Linked DNA regions of Homo sapiens: region 1 is linked to region 2. The links come from fine-mapping of genetic effects on gene expression. A gene starts in region 2. The other region holds a variant in brackets. All regions are shown on one strand. Distances are between the middles of the regions. Region 1 has its middle 61 kb from the start of BRWD3. Region 2 holds the start of BRWD3 (bromodomain and WD repeat domain containing 3).

Evidence for each region. PIP is the estimated chance that this variant, and not a neighbour inherited with it, causes the effect.
Region 1: its variant is fine-mapped to the expression of BRWD3 in lung (TOPMed, PIP 0.99).

What each region holds. Positions count from the first base shown.
Region 1 is chrX:80,869,835-80,872,857 of GRCh38, forward strand. No RefSeq gene overlaps it. Among named protein-coding and RNA genes, the nearest start is that of BRWD3, 61 kb to the left of the region's middle. The variant C/T (reference allele first, on the strand shown) is at 1,270.
Region 2 is chrX:80,808,515-80,811,014 of GRCh38, forward strand. It overlaps BRWD3 (bromodomain and WD repeat domain containing 3), which reads right to left and starts at 1,363. Exons shown (of 41, transcript NM_153252.5): 1 at 927-1,363; 2 at 732-790; 3 at 499-528; 4 at 25-84. The coding sequence starts at 957. LOC124905202 (a long non-coding RNA gene) reads left to right here and starts at 294. Exons shown (of 2, transcript XR_007068278.1): 1 at 294-779. RefSeq lists an enhancer at 1,598-1,677.

The sequences.
Region 1 (3,023 bases), 62 kb after region 2:
GGCTCTTTTTTGGTTCCATATAAATTAAAATTGTTTTTTTCTATTTCTATGAAGAATGTCATTGGTGGTTTAAGAACTTGGCCAGGCATGGTGGCTCACGCCTGTAAATGCAGCACTTTGGGAGGTTGAGGCAGGTGGATCACCTGACATCAGGAGTTTGAGACCAACCTGACCAACATGGAGAAACCCCATCTCTACTAAAAATACAAAAATTAGCCAGGGGGTGGTGGCACATGCCTGTAATCCCAGCTACTCCAGAGGCTGAGGCAGGAGAATTGCTTGAACCTGGGAGGCGGAGGTTGCAGCGGAGGTTGCAGTGAGCGGAGATTGCGTCATTGCACTCCAGCCTGGGCAACAAGAGTGAAACTCCATCTCAAAAAAAAAAAAAAAAAAAAAAAAAGAACTTCTTGATTGTTGACCTAATTTTATTATTTACTCAAAAGTCATTCAGTGTCTTATATCCAATCATGTGATCAATTTTTGAATATGTGCCATGTGAGGATGAGAAGAATGTATATTCTGTTGTTTTTGGTTGGAGACTTCTTTAGGTGTCTATCAGATCCATTTGATCCAGTGCTGAGTTCAGGTCCTGAATATCTTTGTTAATTTTTTGCCTTAATCTGTCTAATACTGTAAGTGGGGGCATTGAAGTCTCCCACTATTATTTTGTGTGAATCTAAGTCTCTTTGTAGATCTCTAAAAACTTGTTCTATGAATCTGGGTGCTCCTGTGTTGGGTGCATAGAGATTTAGGATAGTTGGATCTTCTTGTTGAATTGAACCCTTTATAGGTAATGCCCTTCTTTGTTTTCTTTGGATCTTTGTTGGTTTAAACTCTGTTTTGTCTGAAATTGGGATTGCAACGCCTGCTTTTTTCTGTTTTCCATTTGCTTTATTTATTTATTTATAAACATTTATCCCACTCAGTGGCTACTGTCATGTTTCTTGATTCACTTAATTACACCTTTATATGTTTCAGTGAAATTTTCTTTACAAAGGTTCTGCATATTCCTTGTTAAAATTTTAATTCACTCAATAATGTTAATTCTTCTGGAATTCAGATAGATCAATGTTGTTTTGTACCCATTATATGCTAAGCATTGGCCTAGACGTTTGCATGTATTATTTATATTTCTCACAAGAATTCTGTGTAGTAGGCATTTATTATGCTCATTTTAGAGATAAGGAAATTAAGACTCCAAGAGATTTAATGGCTTGCCCAAGGCCTGGTAAATATCAGGGCTCTGTTAAGACCTCTGAAAGAGGTCTT[C/T]TTCTCTCACCAATTTATATTGTTTTAATTGGTTATTGCTAGGCACTAAGAAAGCTATTTAAAATATATATTTTTTATTCAATCACCTATCTACCTGTCTGTCTATATTATTTATGGCAGAAAAAAAAGAGGTTTTATTGTTTTCATTTGGTCGACCAACTAGGAGAGAGTTCTAGGGTGGTTAAAAATCTGTCTTACACTGGAGAAAGTGGCTTTGGCACAACCTCCAGTTCAGAAGGATCATGGGAAGGCTGTTGGGTGTCATAGGTCACTGGGCTTGGGAGAATCCAAGTTGTCAACAAGAAGTTTTTGACCAGCCAGGTCTGGGGCCTGCAAGCCTGTGGAGGTGGGTCAGGTAGTCATCCATCTTCTCAATGAGTTTCACCTCCTATTAGGAAGTGATATTCCAGGAACTCACACCAATGGGGGTCTCTGCTGCTCCAAACTCAGACTTAGCAGGCCTGGTTTAGGCTCTTTTTCAGGACCATGATGGCTTCCTTCGCAACCCCACTCATCTTGGGATGTCTTTTTCATATCCAGGCAGAGAGTTTGGCCACAGCATTGGTTTTTCATCTTTAAGAGATGCTCAGGCTGGGCATAGTGTGATCATGGCCCACTGCAACCTTGACCTCCAAGGCTCAAGCCATCCTCCAACCTCAGCATCCCGAGTAGCTGGGACTACAAATGTGCACCATCATGCCCCACTAATTTTTAAAGATTTTTTTAGAGGCAGTGTCTCACTATGTTGGTCAGGGTGGTCTTGAACTCCTGGGCTCAAACAATCCTCCTGACTTGGCCTCCGAAAGTATTAGGGTTACAGGTGTGAGCCACCATGCCCAGCCTATTGTTTTATATTTTAAATAATATAGCTAAAGTTAAATCACTAGTCCTCAAGTACCTACCCTTTCTTCAAAGTGCATTACAATACTAAAATCTTTCTACAAGTGTGTTTGATGTGAATTTCTTAGTTTGAGTAACCTTGCTTCCCACCTGAGCTAACATCATCAAATGCATTTTATGTGTATCCTTTGAAATTCTTTTTTTTTTTTTTTTTTTTTTGAGACGGAGTCTCGCTCTGTCGCCCAGGCCGGACTGCGGACTGCAGTGGCGCAATCTCGGCTCACTGCAAGCTCCGCTTCCCGGGTTCACGCCATTCTCCTGCCTCAGCCTCCCGAGTAGCTGGGACTACAGGCGCCCGCCACCGCGCCCGGCTAATTTTTTGTATTTTTAGTAGAGACGGGGTTTCACCTTGTTAGCCAGGATGGTCTCGATCTCCTGACCTCATGATCCACCCGCCTCGGCCTCCCAAAGTGCTGGGATTACAGGCGTGAGCCACCGCGCCCGGCCAGTCCTTTGAAATTCTGATGAGCTAATTAGTAATTTACTTCTCTCGAAATAGCCCTTTCCAGCATGATGCAGTAGAAAGAGTAATACTGTGAGGGTCAGGAAACTTTTGTTCTAATCCTGGCTCCTTCATTAATTGTACAACTGTGGAAAAATCACCAATTTCTTTAAGCTTTAAAAAAATATCTATACAGTGAGTGTACTCCTAGCTGTAAAATTCTGACTGTAATCTTTAGTTCCATCCCATTACTTCTTCCATTTAAATTTTCGATATCCATTCAATGAAGATGCAAGTCTCTTATTTCTGTTACCTCTTTCAAGATACAAATACTCATTCAACACATCCCCACTCCATTTTACTCTCAATTGTCCTATATTTTCTCTTTTTCTTCTTAGTAAGGTGCTTTATG
Region 2 (2,500 bases):
AGTTGAAATGAAAACTTTACTCACCAGATCCTCGAAGCTTCTTCGGTGCTCTTTCCCCTCCCAATCTAAGCGGCGCGGAATCAGCTGGGGGCCGGACGAAAAGAAAGGGGGAAGCGGAGGCAAATGATGAAGGAAAAGCCTCCGCTCCCCATCAACTGGACCCAACCTGTGTCCCAGTCCTCAACACTTTACCGTCTTTATTTCTCTCGGCCTGATAGCTATTGGCTCAGAGCTAGACAAGTATATGGGGGGGGGGGGGAAGGGGGGTCGAGAAGGAAATCCTGAAAAACTGCCTCCCACAAGCATAAAGCGGGGACGAGTTAAGACCCCAGCGTTGTCTGCCCCTTTTGAGGGAAGAAGCCAATTCACCCCGGTGACAACAGCTACGGGTACCCAGATCGAAGCCTCTATCCCAGCCCGTCTTCCGCCCCTGACTTGCCCTCCCCTTCCTCCAGTCTCACCTCAACCCTCCCCACCCTTCCCGAAGGGGCTCCGTACCTGATGCTCCTCGAGCTCCTGCACTAGCACCTGAGCAAAAGGGAAACACAGATATGAGGAGCAGCTCGGGCCATCAACCCATTCCTCCCTCCACACTTAAAGCCCAGCCGCTGACCGTTTGACTAGTCAAGGCCGGCCTTTCCCTCACCCTCAACGGAACTGCTCGTCCCGCTGCCTCGATTTCCCCACTGGGACCATTCACCACGACTCCCAGATCTCTTTCTTCCCCTTACCTGAGCGGATTTGTTGCAGGGTCCAGACTGCAAGAACCTAGCGATCAGGTAATACAGCTCTGGGGAAGAGGGGGGAAAAGAGGTTCAGAGGGAGGTAGAGAAGAGAAATAGAAGCTTTTTCAAAAGAAACTGACAGCCTTCGCGCTAAGCCCCCATTCCCTTAGCACCCCCCCACCCCCCGACACAGCTACCCACCGGCTTCGATCTGGGTAGGTGCTGCCGCCATCCTTTTCCCGAGGGGGTTTGGGGGCTTCGCTCCGGAGGGGCTGGCGGGGGCGGGTGGGGGCGCTGCCTCTATTGTGGTGAAGCCCCCATGCCCGGGAGTCCCGCCGCTTCCGCCGCACTCCTCGTCCTAGTTTCGCTCTCTCTCGAATTCATCGCATCACGTTTCGACCCATAGATATTCTAGCCCAAGAGCTGAGGAGGCGGAGGAGGAAGGAGAGGAGAGGGAGAGGGAGAGAGAGAGTGAGTGAGTGAGAGAGAGAGAGAGAAGAGAGAGAGAGAGAGAGGAAAAAGAGAGAGAGAGAGAGAGAGAGAGAGAGAGAGAGAGAGAGAGAGACGCGGGGGGTGGGGGGGCGGAGAGAGAGAGAGAGAGAGAGATAGACGGAGCGAGAAGAGGGAGGAGCCGAAGTGGCGAAGAGGTGGGCGGGGGCAAAGGGGGTGGAGAGAGGGGAGGGTAAAAATGGTGATAGGGTTTTGCAGCGCTCATAGTTCCCCGCTAGAGGCACTAATACAGCAGCTGAGCCTAGACTCTCCCGGAGCCCGATGGTTGCTTAGCTACAGCTCTGGGAAGGAGGGGGAGGTGCTAACTGACGGCCGACGCTCTGGCAGCCGCCTTGGAACTCTGTGGTGGCATTCGCGTCTGCGAGCTCCGGAGTGACTTTCCCTTCCTGTGAAGGCAATCCGGCCCTTTCCGGTGGAGGACCCTTCCCCCTGGGTTGATCTTGAGGAACTTAAGAGACGGTGTTTTGACTCGACTCCTTTCCCCTTTTTCCTCCCGGTACCAAAGCGGTTTTGTTTGCTGTTTATACTCTACCCCGTGGAAAGGCGGCTAGCTGGCTAAAGGGTTTTATGCCTGGGGGAGGATGAGTCGCTATTTGGTCGTGACTTGTTTCTGTTTAAAATTATTATTATTTACCAAATGAAAATGTTGTACTTACCAGTCCAAAGTGCGGGGCTTATATTGTTAGAAGACCACTTAAAATGCTCCTGGATTCTGACAAATATTGCATGAGAAATTTGCAATCAGCCGTGAAGCATGTTTCCCCTTCTGAAAGTTTAACACGTGCCGTATCTACGGCTGGGATCTAACACATCCCATTCCTACAGGGTAATTTCCTATTGTGTTTTCAAATACTACTAAAGTACTTTAACCAAGAGTTTTCAATAATCTTTATGTATTATTGCCTATCTCTATGCAAGGTATCAATAGTTTTCTACAGGTTCGGGACTACACTGTTTAATATATAACCCCAACCCTTGGTACCGCACTGACCTTCAGTATTTGGTTGCTGAAATCTTCAATGATGAAAGGGGTTGGTATGATAATTGACACAGATTAGTAAACCGGGTCCTTTTCTTCCCTACTTTCCCGTAACATCCTGTCCCCACCCCACTCCCTCACCTAAACCTGATGAGACCAGAAATGCATTTTAAGTTGCATGTATTATTTACATTGAAATATTACAATTTGAAGGTTCATCTAAATTTAAGGCTATATTCTTGGGAATTGGGTTTCCTCACTCAGCTCTGCCACTGACCACAGTGGG